Linked DNA regions of Homo sapiens: all the other regions are linked to region 2. The links come from fine-mapping of genetic effects on gene expression. A gene starts in region 2. Each other region holds a variant in brackets. All regions are shown on one strand. Distances are between the middles of the regions.

What was found.
Region 1: its variant is fine-mapped to the expression of C6orf89 in lung (TOPMed, PIP 0.96).
Region 3: its variant is fine-mapped to the expression of C6orf89 in whole blood (INTERVAL, PIP above 0.99). The same link has a PIP of 0.9 or more in skeletal muscle.
Region 4: its variant is fine-mapped to the expression of C6orf89 in whole blood (TOPMed, PIP above 0.99).
Region 5: its variant is fine-mapped to the expression of C6orf89 in esophagus muscle (GTEx, PIP 0.95).
Region 6: its variant is fine-mapped to the expression of C6orf89 in esophagus muscle (GTEx, PIP above 0.99).

What each region holds. Positions count from the first base shown.
Region 1 is chr6:36,914,656-36,918,743 of GRCh38, forward strand. It overlaps C6orf89 (chromosome 6 open reading frame 89), which reads left to right. Exons shown (of 9, transcript NM_001286635.2): 6 at 1-38; 7 at 1,790-1,919. Among named protein-coding and RNA genes, the nearest start is that of C6orf89, 31 kb to the left of the region's middle. The variant C/T (reference allele first, on the strand shown) is at 2,059.
Region 2 is chr6:36,883,822-36,887,909 of GRCh38, forward strand. C6orf89 (chromosome 6 open reading frame 89) reads left to right here and starts at 2,131. Exons shown (of 9, transcript NM_001286635.2): 1 at 2,131-2,207. RefSeq lists an enhancer at 1,891-1,970 and a silencer at 2,191-2,370.
Region 3 is chr6:36,853,627-36,857,702 of GRCh38, forward strand. PPIL1 (peptidylprolyl isomerase like 1) reads right to left here. Exons shown (of 4, transcript NM_016059.5): 3 at 2,960-3,028; 4 at 1,203-2,407. The coding sequence ends at 2,187. Among named protein-coding and RNA genes, the nearest start is that of CPNE5, 16 kb to the left of the region's middle. The variant G/GA (reference allele first, on the strand shown) is at 2,100.
Region 4 is chr6:36,930,548-36,934,635 of GRCh38, forward strand. No RefSeq gene overlaps it. Among named protein-coding and RNA genes, the nearest start is that of PI16, 22 kb to the right of the region's middle. The variant C/T (reference allele first, on the strand shown) is at 2,080.
Region 5 is chr6:36,997,499-37,001,586 of GRCh38, forward strand. No RefSeq gene overlaps it. Among named protein-coding and RNA genes, the nearest start is that of FGD2, 6.1 kb to the right of the region's middle. RefSeq lists enhancers at 125-748, 749-1,372. The variant G/A (reference allele first, on the strand shown) is at 1,948.
Region 6 is chr6:36,904,330-36,908,417 of GRCh38, forward strand. The region is part of intron 4 of C6orf89 (chromosome 6 open reading frame 89); the gene reads left to right. Among named protein-coding and RNA genes, the nearest start is that of C6orf89, 20 kb to the left of the region's middle. The variant T/G (reference allele first, on the strand shown) is at 1,682.

The DNA of each region.
Region 1 (4,088 bases), 31 kb after region 2:
TGCTTTCCTGAGCGGTGGTTCCCATTTCCTTATCCATGGTGAGTGTGAAAAGGGCCGGGCACAGTGGCTCATGCCTGTGATCCCAGCACTTTGGGAGGCCGAGGCAGGCAGATCACTTGAGCCTAGGAGTTGCAGACCAGCCTGGCCAACATGGCAAAACCCCATCTCTACTAAAAATACAAAAATTAGCCAGGTATGGTGGTGCATGCCTGTAATCCCAGCTACTCTGGAGGCTGAGGCATGAGAATCACTTGAACCTGGGAGGTGGAGGTTGCCATGAGCTGAGATCGCGCCATTGCCCTCCAGCTTGGGTGACAGAGTGAGACTGTGTCTCAAAAAAATGGGGGGGCTATGGGGGCACTTAGCGTGCGAGTAGGAAAGGGGCAGACCAGAAATACCTGCAAAACAGTAATAGCTATCACTGAGCCACTACCACAGGCCCAACACTTTACAAATCCAATGCTGGGATCCCACTGATAAACCAGTGATGAGAGATAAAAGGGATGGATGAAGAGGTGTGTCAGAAGGAGGGGTGCCACCATGGGGGGGACAGCAAGTTTGTCTAATAGAGTCATAATTTATTTCGAAGTATGCATTTAGCATTTTATGTAGAATGGGGCCTCATGCAGGGGGCTGAAGAGAGAGTGCAAATAATAGAAGGAGAATTGCATTTTTTGGCACTTGTTTCTGCCAGGCAGTGTGGCTTGGTGCTTAGTGTCTGTGTCTCACTGGGGACACTGATAATAACTCTGGAAAGTAGGAATGATTGTTGTCATTCTTCAGATCAGACAAGTGGGGATCAGTAGCTAGGCGTGGTGGCTCATGCCTATAATCCCAACACTTTGGGAGTCTGAGGCGGGTTGATCACTTGGGCCCGGGAGTTGGAGACCAGCCCAGGCAACATAGGGAGACCCCATCTCTACAAAAAATATCCAAGCTACTTGGGAGGCTGAGGTGGGAGGATGGCTTGAGCCTGGGAGGTTGAAGCTGCAGTAAGCCATGATCATACCACTGCACTCCAGCCTGGGCGACAAAGTGAGACCCTGTTTCAAAAAAAAAAAAGGTTGGGGGAGGGGGAAAGAAAGAAAGAAAAATGGGAAACAGAGAGATTAAGTAACTTGCCTAAGGTTACCCAGCCAGGATCGAAACCCCAGTTTGTCCTGCTGTTCCTTCCTGTGCCCTGCGGAAGACATGGTTCATTCCTTGTGGTTAAGGTTGCTGTCTAGTAAGAAAAGAAAGCCAGTTTCCATCTTAGAACTGTTTCGAAAGAATTAAAATGACTTTTTCAGGCTTTTTGTTAATTTCTTAATGCTTCTATCTTTCTTTAAATGTGCTGTTTGTTTGCGTGCTAGAGTGCCCAGTTGAACAAGCTGAGCAGGCTTCCCCCTGCGTCTCCCTGTGCCTCAGAAGAAGGGTCATGCTTTTTGTCCCTTCCTCCTTCTCTCTTCTCCCCTTCCCCCGCCTGGCCTGCTGTTACTTCAGTCTTTTCCAAGATAGAATGAATAGATTATTTCTTTCCTTCCAATATATATTGTTTTAGCTGCAATTTAGAAACACTCCACCCACATACTCAAATCATGGCTGTAGAGTTTATGCCTGTGTGTGTACACATTATAGTTCATTGACTCTGTGCAACTATTCTTCAGGGACCTAGTACTTAAGATACTGTACTCATATTTTTCCCTCTTTACCCACCGCCCACAGTTTTCCCACCCTTACTTGGCTCTCTCTTAGTCATGGGCTGGCTTGACCAGTTTAATTACTTTTTTTCTGTTTCATACTTCTACAGGAGGAGACCTCTGAACAGATCACAAATGTTACGTGAGCTTTTTCCTGTTTTCACTCACCTGCCATTTCCAAAAGATGCCTCTTTAAACAAGTGCTCCTTTCTTCACCCAGAACCTGTTGTGGGGAGTAAGGTAGGAAATTTTGAGAGGACTTGGATCTAGAATTTTCTTTATTTGGGACCTGGACTGATGTCATAACCAAGGCCTTCCCTGCATATTGGCTTAGAGGGTTACAGGGTGAATTGAGGGGACACCCACACAGTCTAGTTCT[C/T]CCCTCCTGCTGCTAGCCAGGAGACTTGCAGGGGCCCACCTTGTCATGAAGGCAGGTTTCCAGAAAATCTAGTTACCTTGCAAATCTGCCTCCTGCCCTTAACACCTGAGGCAAACTACTTTTCTATATTAAAAGAAGTGAAATCTTAAAATTTGAAGGACTTGAGGGTGCAATTAGTCTGGCTTTCCTACCTTAAATTAGAAAGTAGGCAAGCAGCCATGATCGGTGGTCGCTCACGCCTGTAATCCAGCACTTGGGGAGGCTGAGGCAAGAGGATTGCTTGAGCCTAGGAGTTTCAGACCAGCCTGGGCAATATAGGGAGACCCTATCTCTATTTTTTCAAAAAAAGAAAAGAAAGCTATAAGGTAATAGTATGTGGATGAATAGAATAACTGCTCCATTTTGTGGATAAGGAAACTGAGTCCCAGAGAGATTAAGTGAGTTGCCCAAGGACACACCCTTTACCCTCTCACCCCCAGGATGGTTTTTGCCAGAAATAAACAATTAAGAGATTTCAGGTAGAGAACTTGAAAGGCAAAAAGTGTGGGAGCCTGGGAAGGATTTGATAGGCAGGCAGCCCAGCTGGGGTAGAAAAGCCCACTCTGCCCCCATCATTTCCCACTTCAGTCTGGGGCCAAGTGCTCAGAGCCAAAGTTACCTCTCTGGGGCCAGTGGACTGGGAGAAGCTGTTCTGCATTTGTGTCTGTTTACTTTTCTCTGAATTGCTCCTTTTGTTGAGTCTCATTCCTAAGGAAGGTTTTTGAGCCTGGATCGGTTTGGGAGAATTAAAAGCATGCATTTTCCTTCATAAAAAAATAAATTTCCCAAACTATGGCCCCCTGCCACCTCTGGACCATGGCTTCCACCTCCTGATACTATCGCTTGGCTCCAAATTTGCTGAATTGTGTTAAAGGAATTTAAAAGCCTATAAAAACAATCATTTTGTCTAGAAGTAAGAAGTTCTGTCTGCCAGCACTGGGGTGGAGATGCTGGGCTCTTGCCTCAGATTTTAAAGAAGTTTATCCTGCTGTCGCCGGCTGGAATTCCAGGCCCTTGTATGATTTCATCTTCATAAATATAATTCTGGGACACGGCTTTATCTTTCTCTTGGTTTTACCACTTGAATACCAAAGTTAATTTCTCCAGCGTGTGCAACACCAAGGAGCCCAGCCAAAGGAGTAAATACAGAGTTACTCAAATGCTTACGAGAGTCATGCTGTGGTTCTCGAGGATGTTTTGGGAAGGGCAGTGGCCAGACAGGCAAAACTCTTGAGAACCCAGTTTCTTAGAGAATCTGTTTCCCCACCCTGGCCCAAGCTCCCCTTTCCCCGCAGCCTTGTTACCCCACCCTGTTGTCCACATCCCTGGGCCCTGGGCCCTGGGCCCTGTTAAAGTCACGTGTCTGTGGGCCCAGTGTCCAAAGGCAGCCTTGGGACAGAATTGGGGAGCTGGTTGTTAAGTGGCACTCGGGGAGAAGGTGAGGGCCTCCAAGGCCCACTTCACCCACTCCACGGTGTGGCCTAGGGCTGGCCTGTGCCACCCTCTTGTCTGTTTCTTCCCATCCTGGGAATGGATGAACATGACCCTGCCCACTTCAGGCCTGTGTGAAGAAGGGATACAGCCACTTGTTTTGGTCCTTCTGAGATTGTTTTGAGGACTACAGATGTTAAGGCTTCTGCCAATATTAGTACCAGTCAACTGAAGGCTAGCTGAAGACACCAGGCTGTCCCTGTCACCACATTAGCCGGTGAAATGGCTCTGGTGTTGCCATGAAAACATTATGGGCAAGGCCTGTGGCAGCAGCAGAGAGAACAGGGTTGGGGACAGGGGAAGATGGGGCCAAAACCCAAGACTCTGGAGGCCCTGAGTGGTGAAGAGAAAACCAAGACATGGCCCAGGGAGTCAGACTTCTGGCTCCCACTTTATATGGGCATATAAAGGGTTTCTCTGAAGGGCAAGAGATAGGAGGAAGAGATGAGAGAAGAGGCCCTAGGGGTTTTCTGTCATCATCAAGGTAAGGAGAAATGTCC
Region 2 (4,088 bases):
AATTCTACTTTAAAGGCTATCGTTACACAACAGACTTTAAATTCTCCTTTGAAAATTATACTAAGTAATAGAATTGGCTAAACAGAAAAGTACCTGTGCAGCTGTTGACACCTGTGGCCTATGGAGAAATACAGCAAATGTAAATTATAAACAATTCTGGCCGGGCGTGATGGCTGACACCCGTAACCTCAGCACTTTGGGAGGCAGAGGTAGGCGGATCCCCTGAGGTCAGGAGTTTGAGAGCAGCCTGGCCAACATGGCAAAACCCTGTCTCTACTAAAAATATGAAAATTAGCCTGGCGTGGTGGCAGGTGCCTGTAATCTCAGCTACTCAATAGGCTGAGGCGGGAGAGTCACTTGAACCTAGGAGGTGGAGGTTGTAGTGAGCTGAGATCGCCGCTGCATTCCAGCCTTGGTGACAGAGCAAGACTCCCTCTCACAAAATAAATACAATAAAAATAAATATCCAGTTGTAGGGGATTAGTGAAAAGACCACTTAGTCAAGCAAGGAGACTCTTCATCTAACTCATTCTTCAATCTATTTAATTTTAGGTGGTTTGGCTTATGGGGACCCTGGGTAAGGAGCATACTCCAAACTCTTGCTATTATCCGCCCGATAATGATAATAATAGTCTCCCTGGTGCACTGTATTCTCTCAAAGATTTTAAATGCTTGCATGCAGCCATCTCTACAACGTCAAATGATCTCTTTTCAACTGGAATAACAAAAACTGAAAGAAATGTGTGACCATGAAGGCACCGTAACCTATGAATGACATGCTGAGACCAGAAACCCAAAATGATGTAACTGAGAGTGGCGCTAAGGCCCTAAGTTCTGGTCACGCTGTCACCTAAGTAAGAACCTGGCCAAAAGTGAGGAATTTTTTTTTAAACAAAATCATGGGAGGCCATTATTTTGGACTGAGCTCATGCACTAGGCACCAACAAACCAAACCAAACTAAAATGGAGTCACTCATGCTAAATGTGACATAATCAAACCAAGGCTTTAAAAAAACACAAAATGCTAGAACAGACCAGGTTTTTTCTCCTGTAAACAGATGTTTCAGAATAAGGAGGTATCCTCTACTCAGCCCTTATTCTCTTCCTGCAAAACCCACTGTTCTACTGTTTCCTAGTGAGTTTCAAAACCATACAGGTACACTTATGACAGCGATAATAACATCAATGACCAAGGTTTTGGTCAATCTCTCAAAATTGAGAAAATGACCAAAACGGGGGAATTGTTAAGGCAAACTAAATATGGCCTGAGAAGGACTCTGTCCTTCTATATTTGAGTCCTTGTGGATGAACTGTAACATAGCTTAATAGTCAAACAAAATTGAAAACCTAACTTAATAGTATACACCTGTAACAATAACTGAGTGGTGGCCAATCCCAGCGGCCATACTTCAACCACTCACAGCCTGCTGAATGTTCAATCTGCGTTCAAATCAGGCAAACACCGAGCTGTAACCAACCTCACTGTTTCTGTACCTTACTTCCGATTCCTGTGCCTCACTTTGCCTTTTTTATCTATAAATTTGTTCTGACCATGAGGCACCCTGGGAGTCTGTGAATCTGCTGTGATTCTGGGGGTTGCCTGATTCGTGAATCTTCCATTGCTCAATTAAACTCCTTTATACTTAATTCGGCTTAAGTTTTTCTTTTATCAACAGAGTAAGCTCTCACTAATGAGTGGGCTGAGTGAAAACTGGAGGGATTTGTTCGTCTTTCTCAAGAGTAGTAGCTTCCAGAAGGAAGGGGCTGCTCTTCATTTACATTTCCCTTCCACTCCCATCCCTTAATGCCTAACATGCTGCCTGGCACATAGTAGGGGACTCAGTAAATGCTTGTTCTATGGATCAGTTCAGCTATGAAGTCTGTGTGAGCCAGTCCAGGTAAATTAGGAAGACAAGGATTTAGGACTGGGGCGAAAAGAGCCAGAACGGAAGAAGGACGCCAGGGGGAGCAAGAACCTACACTCTCCAGATATCGCGAGAGGTCCCGCGCTCGCCACGACACTGAGTGTTCTGTTTTGGGCGGAAGCGCTGGACGAGAGGAGGAATTACTCTAGGGTACAAGGCCTCGCCCAGGAGTGGGGGGTTGCTTCCGGGTCGCGCTCCCGGAAACAGGAAGTTGCCCATCCTCCTCGCCCGGCGGCAGCTGTCCCCGAGGCGGGAGGAGCCCGAGGGGCGCGAGCCCCGCATGTGAGTGACTGGGGCCCGAGGCTGGGTGGGGGGAGGCCGCCCTGTGACAGCCTCGCCGCGCCCGTCTCTGACATCCTCGCGCAGCCGCTTCTCGCCGCTGCTACCACCCTCTATCCCAGCGCGGATCCCTTTTCTCAGTCTCTCCAGTTTTGTAGACTGACAGCATCCCCTGGCAGCTCCCCCGGGGTCGACTCCCTTAAGACATCTGTCACTTTCTTTGACTCCGCCGGGGAGAGCAAAACGAGGTGGACCTTGCTTGAACTTGGTTCTCAGGCATCACAGCAGTGTCCATAACTTGAGCGTTGCTAATGAAGTCCAGATTTCTGCCCTTTTGACGGAATTTTTAAGAAATTAAGAGTAGATTCCCCACCCCCTTCTGAAAGATCTTTTTCTAATAATCGTTAGGGGGCAATAATTTTTTTTCTTTAAATGTGTACTTGGTATGTGATAAACCTGGCATCTTGGATTTCAGAAAGAAATATGACTTGGTTTCTTGACACAAGTAAAATAGTTGTTTGTAATCACCTCTTAGTAGAAGGAAATTTGCCTGCGTCGTGTTTTGTAGTATTTTAAGACTGTTAACCGTGCAGGCCACACTTTCTAGTCTCAGAGCCCTCATAGCCTTTGTATTCGCAAATATGTTTCTTTTAAAGTATTTAGTCATAAATCACTTTATAATAGAGACTACTTCCAGATACTTAGTATTCTGACTTTTCTGATGGCTCATTTGGTAGTTCCTGTGGTGGGATCTTCTATAGACGTCTCTCCCTTAATAAATTCGTTCATTTGAATTTGGGTTGTCAAAATTTCCCTCTAGGGAATAACATGCCTTTAAAATAATAACTAATAAATTCAATTCTGCTACATTGAAGTTTTGACTAAAGGTTCATGTAGCCCAACTTGCATACCAGAAAGAGGTCCTGTTTCTGTCAGACCTTTTCTGCCTTGGACTGAGGCATTTTTCAAGACCTGCTTTGAATACCTGTTCCTCCACAGCTACTCCACACACCAGAAACAATGTCCAAATGCTAGATTCCTAACCTGCTAACCTTAAACCCTCATCACATTGTTGCTACCTCTGCGTTTTTTTGTTTTTTTTTTTTTGAGACGGAGTCTCACACTGTCGCCCAGGCTGGAGTGCAGTGGCGTGATCTCTGCTCACTGCAAGCTCCGCCTCCCCGGTTCACACCATTCTCCTGCCTCAGGCTCCCGACCTCTGCATTTTTAAAAATGAATAAAATAATAAAACATAAAATGAATAAACCATGAGCCACGAGTTACATTCAATTAGTTCGGAATGATAATTTTAGGTCCTTTCTATAAATTTGTTCAACATTGATCTGATTCCACATCTGAGGTGAATTCCCACGTCTGTTCTTAGTTTTTTGTGTTTTCTCCATTTATCTCTGCTTTCAAGAAACACTATTTAGGGTGGGAGGTAGACAGGAAAATAGATGTAATGCCAAGCCCTAGAGGTGCATAGGACAAAAACTGAGGTCAGAGTCTTAAAGAGTTCACTTATTGGACAAAGCACTGGAGACTAGGCTTTTTAGGCAGAGGAAATTGTGTATGCAAAAGCAAAAAGATGTGAAATAGTATGACAGTGTAGAATGTGAAGAAGGATTGATGGGAAATGAAACTGAACAGGTAGGCAGTGACCAGATCATAAAGGGCCATGGTAAGTAATTTGGACTTTATCTTTTAAAAAAGACAGGAATCTCATTCCATCACCCAGGTTGGAGTACAGTGGTGCTATTACGGTTCACTGCAGCCTCGAACTCCTGGGCTCAAGCTACCCCTCACCTCTGCTTCCCAAGTAGCTGGGACTACAGGCAGGCACCACCACACTCGGCCAATTTTTATTTTTATTTTTTTTGTAGA
Region 3 (4,076 bases), 30 kb before region 2:
AACAAGGAACTGTGCCTGTGTGGCTCTCCTCCCAAGGCATGCAGAACCTTCTTTGCTTCAGAGTAGCCATGATACGTTTCCACCACGCCTGTGCCTTGGATGAAAGTGGAGATTTTCAGGATTACGATTCTGGGAGGTTAGTGAACAGGTGCTATTCCTTGCTCTCAGAGGCAGATCCAATTATGTCCACCCAGTTCAGGCTGAAAGAAATACATTTCTATTTTTTCCAGAGTGTAGAACACTACTTTGCATACAAAAACCATCTCTGGGAAGTTACAAAGTCATTTATATGGTTTGTTGTTGGGTTTTGCTTTTTTGCTATTGAGAGAAAAGAGAAAGGTAGAGAAAGAGGTTGAAGGTAGGGAAGGCTTGGGGAACAGAACCTTGTTTGGCCATTCCATAAAGTAAATCACCATTTCCAAAATTGATAGAGTAGTAAGAAACATTAAAGTTATAATCCCCTCTTCAAGGAGCTACCAGCTTAAGGAACCAAACACCACAACATATACTGCCTCTGGTCCCATAATAATGTGCAGGTGGGCTCTCTGCAAATTCCAGGGATGGTGCAGGTCTCTTAGCACATACACCTGGTTCACTTACAGGTAATCCCCCCAACATGGTTTGGCTCTGTGTCCCCACCCAAATCTCATCTCGAATTGTAATCCTCTGTGTCGAGGGAGGGATCTGGTGGGAGGTGACTGATCATGGGGCATTTTCCCCCTGCATGCTGTTCTCACGATAGTGAGGGAGATCTCATGAGATCTGATGGTTTAAATATGGTGGTTTCCCCCGTGCTCGCTCTCTCTCCTGCCACCTTGTAAAGAAGGTGCTTGCTTCTCCTTTGCCTTCCACCATTATTGTAAGTTTCCTGAGGTCTCCCTAGCCATGTGGAACTGTGAGTCAATTAAACCTCTCTTGTTTATAAATTACCTAGTCTCAGGTAGTGTCTTTATAGCAATGTGAAAACAGATGAATACACCTCTTATTCAGAAATGTCAATTTCTGTCACTTAATTCTTTCTCTGGTTCTGCCCTTTTAAAGTTAGAATTGCTCTTAAAGAGGGAGAAGTCTACTGGAGATCCACAAGCCTAAAATGATGTGAAATCTTGAACATTCAATCTCTGTACTACTACTTAAGATGACTGGGATTAAAATGACCATTGGAACCTCATACAATATTTAGAATCAGACCACAGCAGCAATTTCAACCATCAATGGCATTTTATTGTGGAAGTTTCTATGTATTACATAGGTATTAACTTCCTTCCTCTCCTGCTCCTCCCCACAAAATCCAGAAAGTTATTTTTATACATAAACAACTGAACATATAAAAATCTTGGACCTAATTTCTCTAAAGTCTTGGGTTAAAAGAACTTGAGTGGCGCTTCTCCTTTCTGAGAGTACTACTTCTCAAGGAGGATTCATGGTCTGTCCTTTGCTCACTACAGATTTCTCCTCTTCTCTGGGAAAAAATGGTCAATGCTTCTGCTTCCTTTTAATAAACTAATTTCTTGATTATTATACATTATTATTATTCCCCACTTGACACCTTCTTAGAAACTTGATTGTTGGATGTGTTTTTCATTTGGCAAAAATTCAATGTGGCTTTGCGTGGGATGTCTGAAGTGTCAGAAACAGCACTGTTGATGTTCTGGTTTTGAGAGGGAAAATATATATAGAGATGCATACATTCCCTAGAAGAACAAATGTAAAAGACTGAAATAGGGCGTGCACAGAGTTAAGAGGGCTGACAGACACTACTTGGTTTGGAATTCTGTGGCTGTCAGCCATCAAGGACTGCTGTGTAGGCCAGAATATAAATCTCCTTAGGAAGAAGTTTGGTTAGGCAAAACCACTGAGAAATGACAGTGGCTGCTACATTGTTCGACGTATATCAGAGCAGACATGCACAAGAAGCAGCATTATGGTTCATGTGTAGTAAGTAGTCACCTATTGATAAACAGGGGCATTTGTGCAAATGCTCTGGCAACCTAGGCACTGGGGGAAGAGAAAAGAAGCATCCTATTAAAATGTACTTCCATCTCTAACTCACCCAAGATGCCAGGCCTCCTAAGCTTCATGACTTGCAAAGCCAAAAT[G/GA]AATTTAGCATTACATGTCATTCTATGTCATCTAGAAGCTGGTTCACTGGGGCCATCTCAGAAGAGCTGCTCAAGAGGGTAGCAAGTCTACCCAGAAGGGTATGCCTTAATGATCTTCACGTCGTCCACAGGGCGGTCCTGGGAGTTTGTTTCTACCATTCCCACGCGATTCACCATTCCTATGCCCTGACACACTCGGCCAAAAATGGTGTGTTTGCCGTCAAGCCACTGGGTGGGGGCGAGGGTCACAAAGAACTGGCTGCCATTGGTATCTGGCCCCGCATTGGCCATTGCGAGAATTCCAGCCCCTGGTGGGAAAAAGGAAGAAAGGAAAGAGTATAAATAACCCCACAGGTCCAGTGTAGAGCTGCTGCCCCATCCTAGGGATGAAAAAGCAGCCAGGACTTTGTTCTGGCCTCTGTCCAGACCCAGACAACCCCTCAGGGCAGTCTCTCTGCCCTGTACAAAGGCCATCACTACACTATTCTGGCGACTTCATCTTCCTTGTCCTCACCTATTCCCCAGCCTTGACCCCTGATGCTCCTCACTAACTGTGGACCATGTTCCTGACTGCCCTCAAAAACCCAGCAAGGTTTCCTGTTTCTTTGAGGACACTTTTGATATCCTGTGACCTTTAACAAGTAGTTAGAGTCTAGAACACACCGACCAGTGCTCTGAATTGCTCAGAACTTTGTGAGAGGCGCTGCTTTCTCTAATCCACCAGGGCACTTCATGGCGCCATGGCTGGGCAGCTATCTGGCACCATGCCACGGTGTCAGGCATTCACCTTGAATCATGGCCAAAAGAGTGAGCTTTTAAAATCCCCGTTCCTACCCAGTCCAGCCAAATTATACACTTACCCGTGAATTTCAAGTCTGGATGAAGTTCATCTTCAAACTGTTTGCCATAGATAGATGCACCACCTCGACCTGCCCGATTGGAAGATGACACATGAATCAGCCAGTCACACATTCTATCTCACAGCAAGAATGATGGCCCAGGGTCAAAGGATTTCTCAGAGTAGAGGAAAGGAAAAGGCAGTGACACCTACCCCACTGCTAGGTATATTGCAACTACAGAATCTAGCACTAATAGCACATTCAAATCATTGGTTTCATTCCGATAAGACTTTCCTTTTCAAAATAACGCTATTTTTTCCTGCACATTAAAATAATACATGTTCACTATCAAAAAGGTAGAAAACATAGAACATTATCAAAAGAACATTAAAATCCTCTGTAACCTGACCATCTAGAGATAACCACCATTCATAATCTGATGTGTTAAGAGGTTTCTTGATTTTTAACCTTTTTTTGAGTATTTTAGACATGAGTGCCCCAAGTCCTATCCCTGTGCCCATCACAGACATTGCCAATCAATCAGTATTCTTCCCTGCTGAGCTAGATTTGCCTCTGAATGTTATCAACCCAGAACTCAGGCAGCCGTTATTAATTAATCAGTAATAGCCCCAGAGTTGAAACCTATTTGCCACCCTTAACCTAGGTGATGGAAAATAAAATTCATTTAAGTTAAAGCTATCCAGCTGAAGGAGAAATAGCTGGTAAGTGGCAATGTGGCAGAAAGGGACATTACGGTCGGCAGAGTCCACTGAGAGGTGAGGCAGTACATCATTAAGAGAAAACAGGGCCAGGTGTGGTGGCTCACATCTAAAATCTCAGCACTTTGGGAAGCTGAGGCAGGAGGACTGCTGGAGGCCAGGAGTTTGAGCTGGGCCACAGAGCGAGACCCTGACTCCATAAATTTTTTTTTTTTAGAGATGGGGTCTTGCTACGTTGCCCAGGCTGGTCTCAAACTCCTGGCGTCAAGCAATCCTCCCTCCTTGGCTTCCCAAGTGCTGGGATTATAGGCGTGAACCACTGCACCTGGCTCACAAAAAAATTTTAAAATTCAGCCAGATGTGGTAGCACATGCCTGTAGTCCCAGCTCCTTAGGAGGCTGAGGCAGGAGGACTGCTTT
Region 4 (4,088 bases), 47 kb after region 2:
AAGGGGTTCCTCTCCTTTTTCTTAGCCTCTACTTCTGACCAGGACCAAGCTCAGGACAATCCTGCCTCCTTATCACATATCGAGCTCCACTGCTGCTGTCTCTGTCTAAGAGCTTGCTTCACTCTTAGACTCTGCCAGTAATTACCTCACTGGTTTCTCGCCGCACATTCCCCATCCCAATTCACCATCCATGTAGCTGCCCTGATGTCTGGTCACCTCCCTTCCTTGCTCCTCAGTGACTCTCCATTGCCCACAGGAGAAGTCCTGGCCACCACTCCAGCCTCATCTCCTTTGCTTCCCCTTCTCATCTCCTGTGCCCCTCCTCTACTGGACCATCCTAATTCCTGGAAACGTCCAGGCTGGGGTTTTTGTTGTTTGTTAATTTTTGGAGCAGTTCTAGGTTCACAGCAAAATTGAATGGAAAGTACGGCGAGTTCCCATATATCCCCTGTTCCCGCATGTGCACAGCCTCCCCCACTATCAGCATCCCTACCAGAGTGGTGCATTTGTTACAGTCAATGAACCTACGTTGACAGGTCATTATCGCCTGAAGTCTATAGTTTATATTAGGTTCACTTCACTGTTGGTGTTTTACATCCTATATGGGTTTGGACAAATGTATGTTGTCCTGTGTTATATGTCTGCCATTATAGTATCATACAGAGTAGTTTCACTGCCCTAAAAATCCTCTATGCTCTATCTGATCATCCCTCTCTCCCCACTAACCCCTGGCAACCACAGATCTTTTACTGTCTCCATAGTTTTGCCTTTTCCAGAATGTTCAAATAGTTGGAATCATACAGCCTGTAGCCTTTTTAGACTGGCTTCTTCCACTTAGTAATAGGCACATAAGTTTCCTCAACATCTTTTCATGGCTCAATAGTTCATTTCTTTTTAGTGCCAAATAATAGTCCATGGTCTGGATATACCAGAATTTATGTATCCATCTACTGAAGGACATATTGTTTGCTTCCCAAGTTTTGGCAATTGTAAATAAAGCTACTAAAACCATTCATGCGCAGGTTTTTGTGTGGACAGAAGTTTTCAGTTCATATAACTAAATACAAAGGAGTACAATAATTGGATCATATGGTAAGAGTATGTTTAGCTTTTTTTTTTTTTTTTTTTTTTTTTTTTTTGAGATGGAATCTTGCTCTGCCACCCAGGCTGGAGTGCAGTGGTGCAATCTCAGTTCACTGCAAGCTCCACCTCCTGGGTTCACACCATTCTCCTGCCTCAGCCTTCTGAGTAGCTGGGACTACAGGCACCCGCCACCACGCCCGGCTCATTTTTTGTATTTTCAGTAGAGACGGGGTTTCACCGTGTTAGCCAGGATGGTCTCGCTCTCCTGACCTCATGATCTGCCCGCCTCGGCCTCCCAAAGTGCTGGGATTACAGGTGTGAGCCACCGCACCCGGCCTAAGTATGTTTAGCTTTTTATGAAACCATTGAATTGTCTTCCATAGTGGCTGTACCATTTTACAGTCCTACCAGCAATGAGAGTTCCTGTTGCTCCACAGCCTCACCAGCATGTGTCAGTGTTTTGGATTTGGGCCATTCTAATAGGTTTGTAACACCTTACTGCTTTAATTTGCAATTCCCTAATGACATACGATGTTGAACATGTTTTCTTATTTACCATCTATATATCATTTTTGGTGAGGATTCCAGATCTTTTGCTCATTTTTTTTTTATTATAGTCTGGTTGGTTGTTTTCTTACTATTGAGTTTTAAGAGTTCTGTGGCTTGTCTTCTCATTTCTTGACATTGTCTTTTCCAGAGCAGAAGTTTTTAATTTCAGCAAAGTCCAGCTTATCATTGGTTTCTTCATGGATGATGCCTTTGGTGTTGTATCTAAAAGGTCACCTCTATAACCAAGGTCATCTAGGGCCTTCTCCTGTGTTAACTTCTAAGAGTTTTATACTTTTACATTTTATACTCACATTTAGATTCATTCTGAGCGAATTTTTATGGAAGGTATAAGGTCTATGTCTAGATTCATTTTTTGCATGTTAATGTCCAGTTGTTCTAGCATATTGCCTTTGCTCCTCTGTCAAAAATCAACACTTTGGCTGGGTG[C/T]GGTGGCTCACACCTGTAACCCCAGCACTTTGGGAGGCCAAGGCGGGCAGATCACGAAGTCAGGAGTTTGAGACCAGCCTGGCCAACATGGTGAAACCCCATCTCTACTAAAAATACAAAAATTAGCTGGGCATGGTGGCGGGCACCTGGAATCCCAGCTACCCGGGAGGCTGCAGCAGGAGAGGCATTTGAACTTGGGAGGTGGAGGTTGCAGTGAGCTGAGATCGAGCCATTGCACTCCAGCCTGGGCAACATGGCGAGACTCCATCTCAAAAAACAAAAAAAAAAAATCAGTATCTTTATGTGGATCTGTTTCTAGGCTCTCTCTCTCGTGGTCTTTTGATATATTTGTCTGTTCTTTTGCTGATAGGACGCTGTCTCGATCACTATAGCTTTATAGTAAATATTGAAGTCAGAGTGGTGTCAGTCTTCTACCTTGTTCTTCTTCAGTATTAAGTTGGATATTCTGAGTCTTTTGCTTCTTCATTTAAACATTAGAATCCGTTTATTGATATCCACAAAATAGCTTGTGTTTGATTTTGATTGGGATTGCATTGAATCCATAGATCAAATTGCATCCAGGCGGTTTTAATTAGAAGTTATAATTCCTAGCCCATGATGTTTTTGAAATTCAGTATGAATTTTTGCTTAGTTTGAATTCCATCTTATTACTGCACATTCCTGTGACATGACACATGTCCTTTAGGCTTTCTTACTAAATCAAACTGACAAGCCTCTAGACACCATGCTGAAGACAGACATTTCACCAATCTTATTTTTTCAGAATAATGACTCTATTATTTTTTTTAAAATAATACATTCTTATTATAAAGAACTGAAGACAGTTTGGGTGATCTTATGGAAACCTCCACTCAGTGCCAGGTGCGGTAGCTTACAGCTGTAATCCCAGTGCTTTGGGAGGCCAAGGGGAGAGACCGAGAGTTTGAGACCTACCTGGGCAACATAGTAAGACCCTGTCTGTACAAAAAAAAAAAAAAAAAAAAAGAAAAATTTAATTAGCTGGGTGTGGTGACGCACACCTGTAGTCCCAGCCTCAGCCTCATCGCTTGAACCCAGGAGGTTGAGACTGCAGTGAGCCATGATTGCAACACTGCACTCCAGCCCAGGCAACAGAGCGAGACCTTGTCTCTTAAAAACAAAAAACCAAAAACCACCCAGAGATAACTACTAACATTAGGTGAACAGCATTCTAGGTATGTCTAAGGTATTTCTAGGTAGAATGCTAAATAGAAATGCTTATATTAAAATGCTATTTTAAAAAGAAAAGTTCTGAATCTAATTTTATGTGAATCTAACAGGAGAAAAAGAAACTGAAGTAGATGTTTCTTCCCCACAAAAATTAGTAGTTCCCAAAAGATCTCCCTGAAGTTAATATTATGAGAAACATTAAGAAACTAGAATTGTTCTTAATAAGGTTTCCTTTTTAGATGGCATAATCCAAGGCTCTAAAGATAAGGAAATAGCTTGCTCTTTCTCCTCAATTTGTTTATTCCTATATTGATTTTGTTTTTAAAGTCTATGCATTTCCTTCTGCTCTGAAACCTTAATTCTCACCACAGTCTTTTTTTCTTTCTTTTTGAAACAAAGTCTCACTATGTTGTTCTCACCAGCCTCAAAGAATCCTCCAGCCTTAGTTTCTCAAGTAGCTGGGACTTCATTTTATTTTATTTTTATTTATTTTTTTGAGGTAGAATCTCACTTTGTCACCTAGGCTGGAGTGCAATGGCACAATCTCAGCTCACTGCAGCTCTGCCTCCCGGGTTTGAGCGATTCTCCTGCCTCAGTCTCCTGAGTAGCTGGGATTACAGGCAAACACCATCGCACCTGGCTAATTTTTGTATTTTTAGTAGAGACGGGGTTTCACCCTGTTGGCCAGGCTGGTCTTGAACTCCTGAGCTCAGGTGATCTGCCCACCTCAGCCTCCCAAAGTGCTGGGATTACAGATGTGAGCCACCCCGCCCGGCCTTCATTTTATATTTAAACTGATT
Region 5 (4,088 bases), 110 kb after region 2:
ACAGGGCCGGAGCTTGGCTTGATAGGAGCTGCTCCAAGGAAAGACCAAAAGCCAAACTCAGGGAAGGCAAGAGGCGGAGGAAAGAGAACCTTCCACAACCCCCTCCCGCATGCTGGAATGTGCTGCTCCCCACTCAGAAAGGATGTGTGGAGGGCCTACTGTTTGGCAGGCACTGTACTAACTTCTGGGGACCCAGAGACAAATGAGCCAAGGTCCTGCCCCTTCTGGATCTTGTGAGGACTGAGGCCTCGGATGGGATTTGGGTTTCATTTCTCCTTGTTTCCCAAGGTCCCAGCACAGGGGCTATTTGCTGAGAGCAAAGAAGGAAGGGACCTGGTGGGAGGAGGGGCGGGAACTCGGCAGCTCCTTGATGGGAGCAATGGGCTGTTAGTGGGCTCCTGTGTGGTTGTTACATAACAGCTCCCTGGAAGAAGGTACAAGAGGAGCCTAGTAACAAGATGCATTCATGCAGAAATCACAGGCAGAGAATAAGTCGTGCTATTGTGTGGGAAGATAGCGGAGAGGTAGCACAGGTGGGGGAATGGGTCGTGGGAGAAAGGTCGTCAGTGTGGAGGGCAGCGGGCTGGCTGTGCAGGAACAATGTGTTCCCTTTCTCCACTTGGAAACCTGTCAATTCTCTCCAAGCCACTCATGTTTCTGTGTGAGCGCTGTGAAGAACCAAGCAGTCAGGGCCTCGAGAAAGGCCTACAACTATTTGGATAGAGAAGGAGCCTGTCGCTGGGTGTGAGGCCCCTGCATGGTGGCTGAGTGCTTGCACTCTGGGTGCCTTCTCAGGCACAGCCTGGCACCACTCCTGGGCTCTGGCCTTGCTTTACTGGCTCCTTTCTGGTGCCTCCCTGCCCAGATCCCGGCCCTGGCTCTGCCAGGCCCCCTCTCCTCCCCTAGAAACACAATCCTTGCCTCTGCCGTCTCCCAGTGTCCCGGGGGCGTATCTCCTGCCAGCCTGCACATTCACTGTGGGTTCAGCCCGCCTGCGATTTCACTCTTGGTTTCCCTCCTTGGGCCCCACCTGATCTCTGCTTCTAGTGACCTTGAGTTCTTCCTGAATAGTGGGGTGGGTGCCAGGGCCTGGCACAAGCCTTGCCCAATCCTGGCACAAGCCTTGCCCAATCCTTGTGAATGCCAACTTTGAAACTAGATAGTTCACACGCTGAAGAAGAAAGAGCTGTTTATGTTCTTCACTGACGTCCTCTGGCCACCCACGTCAGGCCTGACACCCATCTGCCCCCCACGTCAGGCCTGACACCCCTTTGCTATCTGGGCTGTGCTCTCAGAGCGGATCCTCCTGGGCAGTGAGCCGCAAGGAGCCTGTATTGAGAGAGGTGGGTTTTGCCTCCCGGTATTCCTCACAGGGCTGAACCAACTCGGAATAATTCCACTCCTCAGGTTGACAGTAACATTTAGGAACACCCAGGCCACAGAGGGTCAGGGGCATATAGCAGGCAAAATATAGGGAGGTTCCTGGAAAAGGTGAAAGCGGGAAGGCCGGCGGGCCTTCCACAGAAGGGGCCAGCACCCTTCCAGAAGAAAGCCTCGGCAAAGGGTGGAATTTCCGGCAGAGGGACAGAGTGGAACAATTCTGGCTGCTTGGAGGAGGGGACAGATGAGACGAGTCTCCAAGGGAGCCCAGCTTTGTTCAGCTTCCTCCCTCCAAGCCAGGGATCGGAGGCCCTTGGCGCCCATCCCTCCCATCGGCAGTGTGGCCTCTGCCCACCATGTGACTACCCAGACAGCGCCCTCACTAGGGCCTTCCAAAAGCAGGGGGTGGGGGTGGGCAGGAGGAGGGGGTGAGGCGGAGACCGGGAGGGGTGGCAAGGGTCACGGCAGCCTCTGGCACAGGTTTCAGCTGGCTGCCTGCATCCTCTCTAGAGCCGCATCATCCCAGCTCACAGGCCTGTCTGTCACGGGCCATTAAGCCCTTGGCAG[G/A]TGCTGTGTGCTTGACTGAGGCTGGAGGTGGGATGGCTGGCAAGGGGGAGCCTGGGAACATGCCAGCCTGTCCCCTCCAGTCCTTGTCACCCTGAAGATAAATGCTCCTTTGGGGAGTCCTCACTGTCCCCGGAAAGGCTACACCTGGTGAACCCCTGCAGATTTGCTACACACACACCGTTCATACACACAATGCACACATACATACATGCACGTGCACACACGCCAACCTACACACACACCAGATACACACATGTCACATACACACCCCACAAATACACACATATACACTCATAGCATCCTGATCCTAAGTTGTGACACTTCCTCCCTGGCAGCCTCTAAATGCCCCTTCTGCTTTCCCAAAGTTGCCCCAAGAGGTCCTCTGGGCGCCTCCAGTCTACACACAAAGCCGCTCTGCATGCACCCCAGGGTAGAGATCCCTCGCCAGCCGAGTCCCCACCTGGCCCTGCAGTTCTGCTTGGGCATCCCTCCCTCACCCTCCCTCCCACCTTCCCCCATCTGAGCTGTAGGGAACTGAGCTCTTCCATCTTCCCTTGGGCTTGAAAGCAGAGAAGAGGAGAAAAAAAACAAGAGGTTTATTCATGCCAAAGACCCCAAGAGCCCTGAAATGGAGACATTGCCCCTGCTCAGAGGGAGATCTGTAGACTGGATCAGGGGTTACTCTGCTGAAAACGCTATACTCACTCCCCTAACCTTCTAAGCACCTCAGTTTGGCAGACAAAGCCTAGCAGGCCAGGCTTCCAGGACCCCTTCAGCTGCGGGTTCCACCATTTCCCAGGCCCTGGACACCCACGTGTGCGAGGCCCTGTGTTCTTCCCAGTCTAGCCATGGTAGCCATGGTCTCTCAAGCCCATATCCCTTTGCACATGCTGTTCCTTCTGCTTTGAATGCCCCTTCCTGTCTTGTCCACACAGAGTTAACTCATCCTTCATCCTTCATCTTTTTTTTTTTTTTTGAGACTCTGTCACCCAGGCTGGAGTGCAGTGGTGCAATCTCGGCTCACTGCAACCTCCGCCTCACAGGTTCAAGCAATTCTCCTGCCTCAGCGTCCTGAGTATGTGGGACTACAGGCACCTGCCACCACACCTTGCTTTTTTTTTTTTTTAATTTAATGGAGACGGGGTTTTACCATATTGGCCAGGCTGGTCTCAAACTCCTAACCTTGTGATCCGCCCGCCTCAGCCTCCCAAAGTGCTGGGATTACAGGTTTGAGCCACCGCACCCAGCCCATCCTTCATCTTTCATACTTCAAGTCACCTCTGCCACAAAGCCTTCTGATGACCCTTCTTTGGATGTTCATAACTCCCTTGTTCAAAGCTTTCATCACATCCTATTTTAGTGGTTAACAGGCCCATCTTCCTTATTAGAGTTTGAGCTAAAGGGCTGGGGACTGTGTTTTATCTACAACCTCTACTATGGTATTGACACATAGTAGGTGCTCAAGAAACACTTATCTACTGAATGCGTGACTTAATGAATAGGGCGGAAAAGACAAAATTAAACAGAGAGGAACACCAGGTCTCTGAGGAGGAAAATGAATTTCCAGCAGTAGGTATAAAGGAAGGCTTCCTGGAGGAAGTGAACCGGCTGTAGACAGACTGAAGACACTCTAGGCCAGGGATCCCGTAGCCTATTAGGAACTGGGCCGTACTGCAGGAGGTGAGTGGCGGGTGAGCATTACCACCTGAGTTCTGCCTCATGTCCCATCAGCAGTGGCATTAGATTCTCATAAGAGTGCGAATCCTATTGTGAACTGTGCATGTGAGGGATCTAGTTTGCTCACTCTTTATGAGAATCTAATTCCTGATGATCTGAGTGGAACAGTTTCATCCCAAAATCATCTCCCCACCCCCCGCAACCCCAGAAACCAGTCCCTCGTGCCAAAAAGGTTGGGGACCACTGCTCTAGGCAAAGGGAACTGATTGGTCAAGGCAGAGCGGAGCTATAGCAAAGGCTTCTCTCAAAAGTAAGAATGCTGGTAGCCAACAGTCACCGAGTACCTACTCAGTACCAGGCCTTACTCTAACCTCTTCTATATATTATTATCCCATTTAATCTTCATAACAACCACAGGAGGTTGGCAGTATAATTATCCCCATGTGGCAGAAGAGGAAAGTGAA
Region 6 (4,088 bases), 21 kb after region 2:
TTGCAGATGGAAATAAAATGAGTCCTTGGAGCTCAGTTGTAGAGAGAGCGAGTGAGCATTGGAAGGGTGTGGCTTTAGCTCTTTAATGTTGTTGATTCTATTAAAGTGCTGTTTTTACTTGTAAATGTGGATGTGGAAGCACCATATTTTCCTATGTATGATAATTCTGGGAAGCTGTAGACATGTGAAACTAACAGCATTTTGCGTAGCATTTGGAAGAAAAGTTAAAAACACGTAATTATATGAAGAGTAAACAGAAACACATGAGGGAGAATTAAGTGCAACTTAATCTGGGCCTGTAAGAGGGCAGGAAAAGTAAAAATATATCATTTTTTAATGTCCTGGTATCAAAAAACAACTACCTTCAGGTTAGGATTAGTTGGCCATACATTTAAAGTAAATGCAAGGGGAGAATGGTGTGACAGATTCCCGAAAGGAAACCCCATATGGTTTCCTGAAGTGCTGGCCTGTCTCACACTCCCAGGGTCATCTGGTGCTCCTTGCAGTGGCACCTCGGGAATGATGGAGGGCAGCTGCAGCCTTGGTGATGTACAAGAGGCACCACCACCAATGACTGGAAGTTTCCCCTGACCCCACCCAGGGAACAAAAAGGTGACAGAGGTGGGGTTCTTTTTCTAGATTTCAGCCTTAGATAGGAAATCCTGCCCCTAAATGCTCTCAATAAGAAGAATGAAGTGACTTTGCAGCGAGTCATGGAAACATCCCGCTCTGCAGCAAAAAATAAGTAAATAAACTGACAGTTGTTTATTACTTACCAGATGCCAGACCCTGTTCAGGGGGCTTTCCATATATCGGCTTATTTAATCTTGACAACATCCCTATAGGGTAGCTTCAGGTTTTATGCCCATTTTACAGATGAGGACACTGAGGCACAGTATGGTTAGGTCACTTGCTCAAGGTCCCAGGTCTGGTCACGGAGCCATGATTTGAACCCAGGCAGCCAGTCTTCAGAGTCTGAGCCCTTCGCCTCTGATGTGAGTAGTCTGTAGCTGTGCAGTAGACCTGAAGAGTCTAGCTTTAAGTCTGATGTTGGAGTTCTACCACTGTCTCTCTCGGATCATCAGTTACTTTCTCTTAACTCCCTAGTCCCTGAAGAGACAATATTCTTTCTGGCTGTTCCAAAGATAAGTGGTCTTCCAAGCTTCTGACCCTTTAGAATTTTCCCGACCTGGTGTTGTCTTAGACATTCAGCCCAGTTCATCCTCCCTAGTCTGCACCCTGACATTCAGCCCAGTTCATCCTCCCTAGTCTGCACCCTTATGGATAATATTTGACTGACTTAATCCTTCCTCTTACTGACCCAGAGTTTTCTCTTTACATTCACATTCTTACTGCTTTTCTCCCCTCCTGGCTTCATATCTTTATAGTCACTTTACTCCTGCCGGCCATCCCCTTGGTTTTTACCATTTCCATGGAATCATTGAGTCTTAAAGCCAGAAAAGAATTTTAGAGTTAATCTAGTACATACCCCATTTTATAAAAGAGGTAACTGAGGCCAGGAGAGGTAAAGGAGCTTGCTTACCCAGCTAAAAGTGGCAAAATCACACTTGAACCCTAGTTTCTTAACTCCCTCTAGCATTCTGTCCAAGATATCACACTTACAGCCTGCCATCTCTGCCCTCAGTCAAGCCAGGCGCTAGCATGTTCAGCCAATTATTTT[T/G]TTTACTTTGGTCATTTTCTGGCCAACTTAAAAATAACATATTCATTTCTACTGAGGAAGCCTGGGATAGTTCTCACATACAGTGAAAAGGCACACATTTGGAACTCGATGCATCCCGTAACCTTCAAAGGAAGGATGAAGTAGATCCAGCAACATCAAGAAGTTTTGGAAATAGCAAATCATTTATTGGCCTCAAACTAAGAATCTAGTAAGACTTAGAGAGTCCAGATCTGTGCTCAAAGATGAACTGCTTAGACCGCAAGGAAAACCTTCCTCTTTTATTTGCAAAATAAGCTTACCTTCTGTGATAATAACAGCTCTGTCAAGCACTTACTGTATACCAGGTACTGTGCCGTGCAGTTTATTTCTCAGTCTTCACAGCAGTCACATAAGGTAGATACTGTTTTTATGTTCATTTCAAAGATGAGGAAACTGATGTGCAAGGGGATTGACTGACTTATCTGAAGTCTCACATTTATTTATTTTTAATTTTTTCTTTTGCTGTGTTTTTGATAATAAATTTTCACATTTAGAAACAAATTTTTGTACAAGTGAGAACTCATGAAAATAGACTTTCTCTGTGGTTTGGAGTGGTTCAAATGCATTGCTTCCTGGAGGCAAGGCTGTTGGTGAAATGATTTCTTGGGCTCTTTCCCTCTACGGTGTGTGAAAATGGCTCTGGGCATGGTGCCACACATGCAGGGACCTGGCAGAAGCCTCCTTCATTGTCAAGGCTTCACCCCTGCCTCATGCCCGGGGTACTAGAAGAGGTGCTATGCACAAACAAGCTTCTGGAGAGCAGCCTGATTAAATATTGAGCACACACTAGTGAAAGTCATGGGAACTTTGTCATGGGCTTTGCAGGGTTTTCTTGGCTATATTTATAATGCAAGAAATGATGAAGTTATATTTATTTAATCTTTATTTTGAGGTTTCTGTGAATCCAGATTGCTCATTTGATTTTTCTCCCCATGGACTTAATTCTATTGTTAAAGCTTCTGAAAAATCAGCCTTCCTGCCTGCCTTCCTGCCTTCCTCCCTCCTTCTTTTCCTCCTTCCATCCCTTCCTCCCTCTCCCCAACTTCATTCACTCATTCAGTAAATGTTTATTGAGACCCTGCTATATATGCCAGGCACTGTTCTCAACAAAGCAGTGAACAAAACAGACAAAACCACTGCTCTTGTAGAGCTAGTATTGGCTTTGTTCTTTTCTTTCTTCCCTATCCTTTTTATCCAGAGGGAGTTTTTTGTCCTGGAAAGAAATCTTTTGTTTTGTTTTGTTTTGTTTTGTTTTGTTTTGTTTTTGCCAGGTAAATAATCTATGTAACAGTACTCTCCCCACTCAGAATTCCAGGATATGTTATGGTTGTCTACAGAGAACCAGCCTAAGTGAGTTTTCTTGTAAATAACTCTCAGGCACCAGGAAGCTCCCTGATGGGTGAGACGCTGGCCCATCCATTTTTCTGCCCAGTGCCCAACTTGTAAAGAAGGGTGGATAGTTATGGTCTCTGCACGTTGACTTCAAGGCTGTGTTTTGTCTGAGAGACTGTTTTTGACATCTCCAACAGTGAAATCATTCCAAATCATAGTGAAAACTTGAAATACAAGTTATAAGCTTTATTGAACTTTTATATGTAGGATTTCTCTTCTCTGTCATACCTTTAAAAAATGTTTAAAATATCTGGTATGAGGGATATCTGGAGTAAAGAAGCCTTAGAAATTAAAAGTAGGAAGTTGCTATATAATTTACGCTGACTTTTCTGTCTGGTGCTTCAGGAAAAGTGGTTAGAAACAGGAGGGCTGGAAAGAAGTGAGATGCAGCATATTAGGTAGTCAAAAGCCGTAAACTAGGGTGGCATGGGCTCGGCTGGCTGTGTGCTGTTGGCTGTTTCCCAGGATGGAATTTTGTTCACTTTGTGGCATGATGGCTCCAGCCAGTTGTATAGAGAACACGTCAGACAAAACCTTTTCAGATGGACAGAGGCCAAGCTGGAGTCTGGCCACATCTCTTTCTGTTGTCAGGGACTCTGTGGGGAGAGGAAGAGGAGCCTGCACCCTACCTCCACCCCTAGTTCACCGTTTGCCCGTTCCTCTCTCTAAGCTTATGCTTTATCCACCTTGGTGATCTCAGGCTACAGAGAAATCAAAAGTAGTTCTTTCTTTTAAAGTTTGGGCTCCCTTAGTTCAGGTGGATGGCATAGGCTACCCCATTCCAGTGATCCTTTTTTCTTGTTACTTCCCTTCCTTCTTTGCGGGCCACCAGCCTGGCCACCTCTGCTCCTGTCAGATACCTCTCTGGGGCCAGCCTTCTGAGATGATTTACCTCTACACTTCAGCATTGAATTCTCAGCTTCAGTTTTCATGATCTCCAAGGACATTTTGACTTGGAAAGTACATAAAATACATG